4 separate regions of the Homo sapiens genome follow, and regions 1, 2 and 4 are each reported to be linked to region 3. Evidence: microRNA targets listed by miRTarBase, many of them from high-throughput screens and not tested one by one. Region 3 holds a microRNA gene; each other region holds the end of a gene's coding sequence.
Evidence for each region. Region 3 holds the annotated microRNA hsa-miR-1911-3p (CACCAGGCAUUGUGGUCUCC, at 937-956, shown strand). A microRNA usually pairs through its seed, bases 2 to 8, with sites in the 3' UTR of a target mRNA and lowers its output. Matches are read on the target gene's strand: a 7mer-m8 pairs with bases 2 to 8, a 7mer-A1 pairs with bases 2 to 7 and ends in A, and an 8mer does both.

Region 1 (3,000 bases), not on the chromosome of region 3:
CAGGTGACAAAGGGGACCCAGGCCCAATGGGCCTGCCAGGGTACATGGGCAGGGAGGGTCCCCAAGGGGAGCCTGGCCCTCAGGGCAGCAAGGGTGACAAGGGGGAGATGGGCAGCCCCGGCGCCCCGTGCCAGAAGCGCTTCTTCGCCTTCTCAGTGGGCCGCAAGACGGCCCTGCACAGCGGCGAGGACTTCCAGACGCTGCTCTTCGAAAGGGTCTTTGTGAACCTTGATGGGTGCTTTGACATGGCGACCGGCCAGTTTGCTGCTCCCCTGCGTGGCATCTACTTCTTCAGCCTCAATGTGCACAGCTGGAATTACAAGGAGACGTACGTGCACATTATGCATAACCAGAAAGAGGCTGTCATCCTGTACGCGCAGCCCAGCGAGCGCAGCATCATGCAGAGCCAGAGTGTGATGCTGGACCTGGCCTACGGGGACCGCGTCTGGGTGCGGCTCTTCAAGCGCCAGCGCGAGAACGCCATCTACAGCAACGACTTCGACACCTACATCACCTTCAGCGGCCACCTCATCAAGGCCGAGGACGACTGAGGGCCTCTGGGCCACCCTCCCGGCTGGAGAGCTCAGGTGCTGGTCCCGTCCCCTGCAGGGCTCAGTTTGCACTGCTGTGAAGCAGGAAGGCCAGGGAGGTCCCCGGGGACCTGGCATTCTGGGGAGACCCTGCTTCTATCTTGGCTGCCATCATCCCTCCCAGCCTATTTCTGCTCCTCTCTTCTCTCTTGGACCTATTTTAAGAAGCTTGCTAACCTAAATATTCTAGAACTTTCCCAGCCTCGTAGCCCAGCACTTCTCAAACTTGGAAATGCATGCGAATCACCCGGGGTTCGTGTTAAATGCAGATTCTGACTCAGCAGGTCTGAGTGGGTCCAGGATTCTGTGTTTCTCATATGTTCCTGGGTGATGCTGATGGGGTCAGTCTATGAACCACACTGGAGCAACCAGGTTCTAGGACTTTCTCAATATTCTAGTACTTTCTGAACATTCTGGAATCCTCCCCACATTCTAGAATTCTCCCAACATTTTTTTTTCTTGAGACAGAGTCTTGCTCTGTTGCCCAGGCTAGAGTGCAGTGGTGCAATCTCAGTTCACTGCAACCTCTGCCTCCCGGGTTCAAGCGATTCTTCTGCCTCAGCCTCCCTAGTGGCTGGGATTACAGGCGCCTGCTACCATGCCTGGCTAATTTTTGTATTTTTAGTAGAGATGGGGTTTCACCATATTGGCCAGGCTGGTCTTGAACTCCTGACTTCAGGTGACCCACCCGCCTCGGCCTCTCAAAATGCTGGGATTACAGGTGTGAGCCACCGTGCCTGGCCAATTCCAACATTCTTAAATTCTCTCATCCCTCCAGGGCTCCCCGTGCTATGTTCTCTTTACCCCTTCCCCCTCTTCTCTTGCTCAGGCCTGCACCACTGCAGCCACCGTTCATTTATTCATTCATTAAACACTGAGCACTCACTCTGTGCTGGGTCCCGGGAAGGGTGAGGGGGTCAGACACAGGCCCTGCCCCTGCCCTCAGTGACTGGCCAGTCCAGCCCAGGCGGGGAGAGATGTGTACATAGGTTTTAAAGCAGACCCAGAGCTCATGGGGGCCTGTGTTCTGGGTGTTCAGGTGCTGCTGGTCCTCCATTACCCACTGCTCCCCAAGGCTGGTGGGACGGGGTCCCGGTGGCAGGGGCAGGTATCTCCTTCCCGTTCCTCATCCACCTGCCCAGTGCTCATCGTTACAGCAAACCCCAGGGGGCCTTGGCCAGGTCAAGGGTTCTGTGAGGAGAGGACCCAGGAGTGTGGGGGCATTTGGGGGGTGAAGTGGCCCCCGAAGAATGGAACCCACACCCATAGCTCTCCCCACAGCTGATACGGCATCCTGCGAGAAGACCTGCCCTCCTCACTGGGATCCCCTTCCTGCCTCCTCCCAGGGCTCTGCCAGGGCCTTGCTCAGTCCCTTCCACCAAAGTCATCTGAACTTCCGTTTCCCCAGGGCCTCCAGCTGCCCTCAGACACTGATGTCTGTCCCCAGGTGCTCTCTGCCCCTCATGCCCCTCTCACCGGCCCAGTGCCCCGACTCTCCAGGCTTTATCAAGGTGCTAAGGCCCGGGTGGGCAGCTCCTCGTCTCAGAGCCCTCCTCCGGCCTGGTGCTGCCTTTACAAACACCTGCAGGAGAAGGGCCACGGAAGCCCCAGGCTTTAGAGCCCTCAGCAGGTCTGGGGAGCTAGAGCAAAGGAGGGACCTCAGGCCTTCCGTTTCTTCTTCCAGGGTGGGGTGGCCTGGTGTTCCCCTAGCCTTCCAAACCCAGGTGGCCTGCCCTTCTCCCCAGAGGGAGGCGGCCTCCGCCCATTGGTGCTCATGCAGACTCTGGGGCTGAGGTGCCCCGGGGGGTGATCTCTGGTGCTCACAGCCGAGGAGCCGTGGCTCCATGGCCAGATGACGGAAACAGGGTCTGACCAAGTGCCAGGAAGACCTGTGCTATAAACCACCCTGCCTGATCCTGCCCCTGCCTGACCCCGCCACGCCCTGCCGTCCAGCATGATTAAAGAATGCTGTCTCCTCTTGGCGATTCAGACTGGTTCTTTCTGCTCGGCTCCCTCTGCCCACTCTGCGTGCTCCCTGCCCACAAAGAAGCGAGCCCCCAGGTCACTCACGCAGCTGGCGCGCCTTGGAGCTAGTGGCACCAGCATAGAGTCAGCCGTGTCACTCTTTGGTTGTGACCTCGGGCAAGTCCCCATATCTCTGCGCCTCGGTTTCCTGTCTGTAAAATGGGGACAATGGTAATCTACCTCATGCGGTGGACATAAGGATCAGATGCCAGGTTGCTTGATGAGTGCCGCGTTCATGCTCAGCATCTGCTGAGCGCCAACTGTGTGGCGCAGAGCTGAGCACCTGTGCCGTTTATGCTCCAGTGAGGCACACGCAAGCCCCCCCACCTCCCGCCCCGGGGACCCTGTCGCATGTTTTGCGTTTAATTATGATGAGAGAACTGTT
Region 2 (3,000 bases), not on the chromosome of region 3:
CCCCACCAAGTAGCATCCAAGATGGGGCCACGCCAGGCTGCTGGAGGGTGTGGGGTAAGAGGTGTCCCTGTCCTGGTAGCTCCTCTCCAAGGAGAGAAGACAGATGGCCCCATTCTCATGGAGAGCACCCAGAGCTGCTCAGGCACAGCCAGCAACTGATAACCCTGGGGCTCACAAGGGAGGGGATCCAGACAGGGGCGTGGGAGCAGGAAGAGATCTTCCCAGCCAGTGGGTGCAGGCTAGTATCGCAAGTTCTCATCTGGCCATGTGACTGTGTCTCTTTCAGGCAAAGCACTAAAGGGCCAGTACCAGTGAGTGGCCCCACCTGTGTCCCCGATGCTGACCTCACCTGGTCCTCCGCCTACTGTCCCTCTCAGTGCCTTCTCTCAGCTCCCAGGCCAACAGTAGCCAAACCCCTAGAGACAGTGATGCCTGCCCGCACCCTGGCCTGGTCCCTGGTCCTTCACTGGCGCCTTCTCGGAGCTGGCCCAGGGGGCCTGGAGCATGGACAGTGTGGGCGCTCTCCCTACCTTGCCTCCTTTTTTCTTAAAGCAAAGTCACTTCTCCATCACAACCAGATTTGAGGCTGGTTTTGATGGCTGGGTCCTTGGGCCTGGCCAGTCTTCCTCTTAGCCTCTGGATCTAGAAGGGACCATAAGAGGAGTAGGCCCTGGTTCCTGCTGTCCTGGTGGCTGGGCCCAGCAGGGGCCCTCACTCTTGAAGTCCAGGACTGGGTCTGACCTGGTGGGAGCACCTGCCAGAGGATGCTCTTTCCCAGGACGGATGGGCCCTATGTCTCAGGAGTGGGGTTGGGGGACAGCCTTCAGCAGCAGCTCACACCCTACCTTCCCCAGACTTGCACTGGGGTGGGATTTGGAGTGATGGGAAGGTTTTTAAGGGCCGGGGATGGATCTTTTCTAAATGTTATTACTTGTAAATAAAGTCTATTTTTCTCCCGTGAGTACTGAGTTGACTTGATCGGTGTGGGAAAAAGAGGAATATAGGCTCTTTGAAGCCTACCTTGTTCCTGCTGAGTCTTCCATACCACCTCCTTTCTCTCATCCCTTTTCCTGAGGCCACATCTTTCCAGGCTCTTCCCACTCTCCATTAGTGGCCTCTGCTCCCGGGGAGCATTATGGGCTGTTCTCTCTTTTCTTTTTCAAGCGCCTGTGTTCCCCTGAAGCAGGTGTTGTCTTCAGCTTCTGTGTGGCAGTCCCTCTCTCCCATACTCCCTCGTGGGACAGGCAAAGTTCCTGGGAGTGGAACTGAAGCCTAAATGAACAGATGTCAGGATGCCTCCATTGAATAATCCTTTATGAGGACCCATGTGGGGATGACACAGATACAGTGTGGATCCGAAGCAGCTGCTGCCCCCATCCCTTCCCTGGAACAGTCCATTAGAGTGAAGGGGGAAAAAAAAAACATACAGCACGAAGATAGGAAGTCTGCAGAATGCGGCCAGAGCTGAAAGAGGATGACTTCACTGAAGAGGCAGCATTTCAACCAGGCTTGAGCGTTCCCCTGCTGGGGCGGTGAGGAAGACGGGACTAAATGAGCAGAGACATGGGAGTGGGAGCTGTCTGGGAAAAGCAAGAATAGTTGGGAGGCTTCCAGAAAGTCATGTGGGAAATGCAGGTAGGGCCCTGGAGTGCAAGGCTAAGGCATCAACAGTCTTGGTGGTTTCTGAGCAGTAGAGCAGTGTGAGGAGTAGGACGTTAGGAAGGCTAATGGATAGGTGGAGAGAGAATGGCAGGAGGAGGAGGCATTATAAGGAGGCTGTGATTTTCTAGGTAGGTGGGAATGGAGTTTGAATTTGGTGAGAGAAGGGACCCAAAGCAGAGAAGGAGGGGGTGTGTTGCGCATCCACGCAGCCTACAGGCAGTCAGGGACTGTTCACTCCAGGTAGACAGGTAGGACCCAAGCTCTGGTCAAGGTTGTGCTGCTGCTGGCCCTGTGCTGAGTCTTAACCCTGCTGCTGTGGACTGCTGTGGCTGGAGGGCAGGGCTTCTTGGGTGGGGGGCAAGGTTGCCCTCAGCCCAGCCTAGGGAAGTGAAGGCAGACAAGGATCAGGCCAAGGAAAGGAGGGACATCTCATCACTTTGCCCCAGGCTACACCTCCTCTGCCCAAGACCTAAGTTCCTTTTTGTCTGGCTGACCTTGAGGAATGCTGGGCATTAGTTCACAGGCTGCTCTGGCAGAGCCCACCCTTTCCTCCCCACATATGGAAGCAGAGCTCCTCCTGTTCCTGGAGGCCTCTCCTTGGGCTCCTCACCCAGAGCTGGGCCAGGACGACGTGACGCTGGACAACCTGTTCAGGGTCCACGAGCACACAGGAGAAGTTGGTGCTGTGCAGGGCAGGGGTCAGCTGCTCCAGCACCAAGGCCTTGCACAGCTGCGTACCTGTGCTCCCACGTTCCCGGCTGGAGCGGAAGGGAAGGAAAGGTCATGAGAAGGCCGCAGAAGGCCTCCTTCCCACCCACCTGGCTGCTGCGACCCTCACCTGGTGCTCCCCTCCCACAGTCGGCCTGGGAGGTGCTCAATGAAGGAACCATTGCCCAGCCAGTAGAGGATGCTGAAGTTGGGGAAGCGGCTGCAGGCCACACAGGATAAGCTCAGCGTTCCATCTAGGGACACAGGCAGCAGTTAGCTCTTCAGAAGAGCAGGCCCTTCCCCTACCCTGCTCTGCTGTGCCCTCCCTGCCAGCTCCCCCCAGTCCCCATGCATCTGGAACCTAGAGAACTGCTCTGCACACCACCTAGGTGGGAACGTCCGTTACAGAAGTGCAGTTGTCTCCGAGAGGCCCTAGCCCTAAACACGGGGAATGTGAGGAATGGTCCTTGGTTCACGTGATGAATCCTCTTCTGAACCTGTCTCCTCAGGATGACCTTTTCTAGTGCCCAGCCTCGGTGACTTGGGAGCCCAGGTGACAAAGGCAGTGCTGGATGGCTGCTGCTCCTCTGAGATGGCCAGAGGCCAGCAGGCTCTGGGTGGAGGGGCTGG
Region 3 (3,151 bases):
GTAGATCCATCATATTTTCCACTGTCATCCCTGGGGATTTTCAAGGATTCCATCAAAAGTTACTCACTGGAGTCCAAGTTGTCCTAAATGTTCTCAAAACATATACAGTTTATGAAAATAAACATGCAATAAATAAAATCTCCCTGATTTCTTCGAATTGGTTAATGAATAGCAGAAGACAATCTTCTCATATATATTAATACCTCCAAAATTTGTATAACTAGAGGTCATTCTCAAAGTGAAACAATTTTCTTGTGTGTATAAAGGTGGTACCATATCCCTAGATAGATGGCATATTAAGCCCTAGGGTATTGGAACATATTGTTATAGTGGCTCTTTGGCTGAATTTTGCCTGCAGATAAATTTTGTTTTGGCCTAGCCAACAATTTTTAAACTTTATCATTTGAATACATTTTAAGAGTGAGTTCCAACTTTGCTATCTTTTCTACCACTCCCCATCTTCTTATACCCAGCTGTCCTACCCACTGATATTACCTACCTGGTCCCTAAAAGTGTTTACATTTGTGATGGGCATCACAGCTGTGAGCACAGAAGAAATAGCTTTCATGTTGATACTCCACATTCACCCCTGTGCTAACAAAGGTCCTCTAGCCCTCTAGAAAAAGTACACTCATTTTCCCCTAAGTACTTCTAGAAGTCACCAGTGGTTCTCTCGTGTGATCATGAGCAAATCAATTTTCATCATGCACTGCTGCAATTATTCTGGGCTTTCATGGAGCACACATGTATCCACCATCACCCGTCATCATTCATAGTATCTGCTGGGCATTCATCATCTACCACTGGGCATCCATCATCTCCCATTTGGCATTCATCATCTCCCACTGGGCATCCATCATCTGCCACTGGGTATCCATCATCATTTGCTCGGCATCTGCTGAGTACCGCCATGTCTGTTGGGCATCCACAGTCTCCCACCAGGCATTGTGGTCTCCGCTGACGCTTTGCCATTTCGCCACCGGTGCCTTCCATGAGAATGCTGGTTACTTCTCCAGAGTGCTGTCACCCGGGGCTGCCAAATCTACAAACCCTCAAGATACCAGGTGTGCTGCATTTGCGTCAGTATTCATTGTACTTAGCTGTGTTCCTTGCATAAATTAGGAAAATGCCCCTTTATAACTGTGGCACATTTTGTTATCTAAACATTGAAAAAGCAATACTTGTCCCTGTCCCCTTCACAAAGTCCCTCTGTAAAACAGCTATCTCTGTTTTATCTTTCTTTGTTACTTATGGTTATCATCCACAGGGCTTACATATTCCACAGGGCTGATCTTGAGTCTATACACTGATGCCTTAATTCCTGTCCTCAGGCATTCACCCAAAAAACATCCCTCTGAAAAGCTTAGCAGGTAACTTGTCAGCCTTGTGTACTTGTATATACCTAGCATCTACTCCTATATCTGGTCTTTTTCTTTTTAATGGATAGATGAAGGCCTCCTTCCTCTTTGCAAATCAGTTCATGAGGTGATATTCTTGGAAATTCCCAGGCCCACATATCTTCACCTGTGAATCATTACTTTGGGTTTGAAATGTCTTCTCCCAATATCACTTTTCCCTTTAACAATATCCTTAATCACTTCACTGCGGGATCTTTATCCTAGAGAAAAAAATTTCTTTACCGGGTAAGTTTCCATTCTAAATACAAAAAGAATAATGGTATCAGTATATTTAAATTATAATGACATATGTGGAAGAATACAGTCCAGAGGTCCTGATTTTTGTTCTTATATCTAGAGTCTTCTACCTCTGGTTATCCTTTGCTGTTTCTCTCTTCTATCCTCCTTAGAAATGTACAACTTTGGCTGGGTGCGGTGGCTCATGCCTGTAACCCCAACCCTTTGGGAGGCCGAGGCGGGCAGATCACCTGAGGTTGGGAGTTCGAGACCAGCCTGACCAACATGAAGAAACCCTGTCTTTACTAAAAGTACAAAACTAGCTGGGTGTGGTGGCGCATGCCTGTAATCCCAGCTACTCAGGAGGCTGAGGCAGGAGAATCTCTTGAACCCAGGAGGTGGAGGTTGCGATGAGCCGAGATCGCACCATTGCACTCCAGCCTGAGGGCAACAAGAGTGAAACTCCATCTCAAAAAAAAAAAAAAAAAAGTAAAAGAAATGTACAACTTTTACATATTAATTACTGGTTTAATTCCCCAATAAATGCACAAAATAAATAAATAATGTAATTGTAGTTAACATTCCAGTTCTGGTTGCAAAAATAATTTCACTACAGGCAGATAGGCAGCACTGTCAAAGCTAAATAACAACGGCCAACACTTGAGTTTTTGCTCAGGGCCAGACATTGTTCCAAGTATTATACATGTACTATCCCTATTTAATACATAAAGAAAACAATGCACCAAAAGTTTAAATGCTATCAGTATTCTACTGCCAACAATGGGACGCACCTCCTACGTTTTCTTCCTTAAGAGGAGACATCCTCTGTCTTCTCAAGAAAGATTAGAATTCCCTCTGTAGTGTCCAGTTCTGGTGATTTGAAGATTCTCCTCATTTTCCTTTTTCTTCTTAAATCTCACTCCTTCATGGAATCAATCTTTCTTTCTTTCTTTCTTTCTTTCTTTCTTTCTTTCTTTCTTTCTTTCTTTCTTTCTTTTCCTTCCTTCCTTCCTTCCTTCCTTCTATCTTTCTTCCTTCCTTTCTTCCTTCCCTCCATTCATCCCTTCCGTCCTTCTCTCTCTCTTTCTTTCTTTCTTTTTTCTTTCTTTCTTTTTTTTTCTTTCCTTTCTTTTGACAGAGTTTCACTGTGTTACCCAGGCTAGTTGTGAACTCCTGGGCTACAACAATCTACCCACCTCAGGTTAACAAAATGCTGAGAATACAATCATGAGCCACCATGCCCAGCCTTGGAAACTTTCAGTGATTTTTATATTGTCTGCTAATGTGCCAATTCCTAGAGAGCTAAGTTCTCAGTCCTTACTTCATGAACTTTTCCCTCAAAGCCTGTATGTCTATGCCAAGAGCCTTTTAACTGGGTTGAATGATGGTGGTGAAGGAAGCTATTATAACAAGTACTATAATAGCTAACTTTAATTGAACACTTACTCTGTCCATTTATCTTATTCAATCCACACAACCAACATATAAGTATTTTTCCCACTTTACAGATGAGGGAA
Region 4 (3,000 bases), not on the chromosome of region 3:
CTGCCCACCTCAGCCTCCCAAAGTGCTGGGATTACAGGCGTGAACAAGTAACAGTTTTTAAAACAAAAGTAGTTTTCTCTAAGTCAACTGTTATGGTTCAAATGCTGAAGTGTGCTAGCAGCTAAAATAAAGTCACCAGAGTAAGAAAAACGTTTCAAATGATCAGTTTATCACAACTGTTATGGTTCAAATGCTGAAGTGTGCTAGCAGCTAAAAGAAAGTCACCAGAGTAAGAAAAACGTTTCAAACGATCAGTTTATCACAACTGTTATGGTTCAAATGCTGAAGTGTGCTAGCAGCTAAAAGAAAGTCACCAGAGTAAGAAAAATGTTTCAAATTATCAGTTTATCACTTGCATGTTAACAACAATAAAAATAAGGACTTGCTAACAAAAGAATTTTAGTTTTTATGTATTTGGACAGCTACCACTGAAATGTTCATTTTGACATATAAGATGCAGCAGGATATGGAAGACACCAAAACAAAGCACAAAAAGTCAAAATGTTCAAAGTCATTTTCTTCCTTACTTTCTTCATTACTTATCACATTTTTCGATAACTAATGGCAGTAGCTTAATAAGCTCCTATATTAACAATTCAGGTTTATGTCACAAATACTTTTATTAAATAAATTTCAAAGTAACAAAGCTTTGCCTACATTAAAAAAATCAGTAGCAATTATAAAACAAGTCAACAGGTAGTCGTGCATCTAAATCTGATGTAGTATTCAAAAATAGAGAAATCCACCTGTGCTTTACTTGTATCTGGGGGAACGTCAAGAGGACTCCATGACATACAGTTCTCCCCATCTTACACTTCTTCAGTCCCTTGGCACAGACCCGGGGTATTCCAGTGGCAAAGTAGTACATCCATTACAGGCTACTTACTTAAAGGAAGACAGGCTACTTGCTCTTTTCCCCAGTAAGATGGCAGACATAGGTCACTGACTCCTTCACTCTCCCCTGACCTTCTATAACCTCGGTTTAATCATAAGGTATGCTCTTTAAATCCATCGTCCATCTGCACACATACTATGTTGAAGCCTGTTAACATTGACAACTACTACAGTGTAACATTTACTAATATGAAGAAAAGGGCAAGTAGTCATAACTGAATGAATATAAATGTCAAATTATGCAAATGTCAATTTGAGTGAGATCACTATTGTTGAATTCCAAGATGTTTAATGTAAACTGTTTTTATAAAAACTAATTATGAAACACAAAGACAATAGAAATATAAGTTATTTATTAATCAATCCACTTACAAAGCAGGTGGCTTAATGCAAGCTTATTGACATCTTCACATATGATCCATGGGAACATGTCCTCCACATACAGACAGTGATATTACTGACTGGATGCATTTGCAATCTGGGGCATATTAAGCATATTTAAACAAATAAAATTAGGCTATCCTGTATATGAAAGTATCTTGATAATAATATGCATCCTGAAGTAGATTAAAACTTCCTCCAAAGGAGAAATGTTAGTATGTTAACTTAACTTTATATTCTATATTATGCAGTAAATCTTAACTATAGAAATTAAAAATTTTAAATCAGTGATCGACTCTTGGTAATGTATGAAGTGGGAGTATATAACCATAGCAACAGTAGGTTGACAGTATAATTTGTGCCTCACAGTATCTGCAGATTTACTGTTTTCAAGTTTAGAGAGAAATAAAACAAGAGACATGTAGATTCAGCTGACTTTATTTACCTTTAAACTAATAAAAATCCCTTAAAAGTGATCCTGGGACCTTTATAAGTTCTATGAATGCACAGATACCTGCCAGTGACTTAAATTCCAAATCTTGACTTAATGTGTCTACAAAATCAATGTAAGCAGATATCTTAACTTTTCGTGCTTAGCAGAAGACAACAAATTCTACATGTCTTTTTCAATTTCCCTAAAATTTTGTTAAATCTGCAAGTATGTACAATCTAGCTAATTGAAATTAATATTTAGTGTTCATCAGAGCTGTTTCACAGCAGCAAAAACTGAATCAGGGAAATAAAATTCTAAATGATGTAGGAAAAAGATAAATGCAATCAGAACAGCAGTCTAAATGTATGATATCAATATTCAACTCTTATCTGCACTGTGTTGAAAGGAAAAGGATACACCAAGAAAATTTATACTGATCACTCTGGTGATGTGACTACCACCTGCATCTGATTTATATGGGTTGTATTCTGTTCCCAGTATTAAGGATGGTATTTAACTCAGAACTCCATATAGTAAATATACAGCAGCCATTTTGTCCTAATTAAGGAATGTCTTAATACACAATATTATCATTTTCTAGAGGATCTTTATACATTAAACTAAAGTACATGATTGATTAAATTAAAGGTTAGTAATGGATAAAAAATTCATAATTATCAAGGCTTGGTACTATGTAAAAAACAAAAAGACCACAAAATTCTACTTACTAAAGCAGCTAACCTTGCCTGCAAGTTTAGGGTCACAAGCCCATAATATGTGCAAAGAAATGCAATACAAGGAACCATGCAAAAATACAGTAAAATGATACAGAAAAATGTCAAATCTAGAAAAAAAAGCTTTTATAAATACATCAAAATCAACTGTATACATAAACTGTAGGTCTAGCATTAGTTGTACCATATAGCAGAGCCAGCACTCTAAGTTCAATGCTTCCAAATCTGCGCAGGTAAGTCATGCCATCTTTGGTTGACTGCAGTACCAGGAAGGATGGGAATGAGAGGGAGGGCAAGAGTTCTGAAACATGGTGTCAACTTTCACTTGGCAGCTGGGCCTCAATGTCCACTCTGCATATGGGGCACTTCTTATTGGTAATCAACCATTGGTCAACACACACTTGGTGGAAAAGGTGCATACATGGAAGACGTCTATTATTGGCAAGAAAACAAAAAGCAAAAATTAATTTTATGATAATTGTACGTAGTTAACAAATTATATATGTAATAATTCAATAATGTTTTGAAGGTACTAAGCATCTTCCTCTTCTATAAAAA

Region 1: the mRNA of C1QTNF6 is a reported target of hsa-miR-1911-3p. Seed matches in the 3' UTR shown: 7mer-m8 at 2,149-2,155 and 7mer-m8 at 2,284-2,290.
Region 2: miRTarBase lists NUMA1 as a target of hsa-miR-1911-3p. Seed matches in the 3' UTR shown: 7mer-m8 at 447-453.
Region 4: miRTarBase lists RNF111 as a target of hsa-miR-1911-3p. Seed matches in the 3' UTR shown: 7mer-A1 at 2,706-2,712.

The regions. Positions count from the first base shown.
Region 1 is chr22:37,179,739-37,182,738 of GRCh38, reverse strand. It overlaps C1QTNF6 (C1q and TNF related 6), which reads left to right. Exons shown (of 3, transcript NM_031910.4): 3 at 4-2,573. The coding sequence ends at 551. It overlaps IL2RB-AS1 (IL2RB and C1QTNF6 antisense RNA 1), which reads right to left. Exons shown (of 2, transcript NR_199008.1): 2 at 1-310. Among named protein-coding and RNA genes, the nearest start is that of C1QTNF6, 7.0 kb to the left of the region's middle. RefSeq lists enhancers at 1,393-2,252, 2,253-3,000.
Region 2 is chr11:72,000,825-72,003,824 of GRCh38, reverse strand. It overlaps NUMA1 (nuclear mitotic apparatus protein 1), which reads left to right. Exons shown (of 27, transcript NM_006185.4): 27 at 287-961. The coding sequence ends at 298. IL18BP (interleukin 18 binding protein) reads right to left here. Exons shown (of 6, transcript NM_001039660.2): 4 at 2,501-2,624; 5 at 2,273-2,420; 6 at 1,021-2,041. The coding sequence ends at 1,964. Among named protein-coding and RNA genes, the nearest start is that of IL18BP, 3.4 kb to the right of the region's middle.
Region 3 is chrX:114,762,296-114,765,446 of GRCh38, forward strand. MIR1911 (microRNA 1911) reads left to right here and starts at 889; the gene lies at 889-968. The region is part of intron 4 of HTR2C (5-hydroxytryptamine receptor 2C); the gene reads left to right. The region is part of intron 3 of LOC105373313 (a long non-coding RNA gene); the gene reads right to left.
Region 4 is chr15:59,094,657-59,097,656 of GRCh38, reverse strand. It overlaps RNF111 (ring finger protein 111), which reads right to left. Exons shown (of 14, transcript NM_017610.8): 14 at 238-2,874. The coding sequence ends at 2,757. Among named protein-coding and RNA genes, the nearest start is that of CCNB2, 9.0 kb to the left of the region's middle.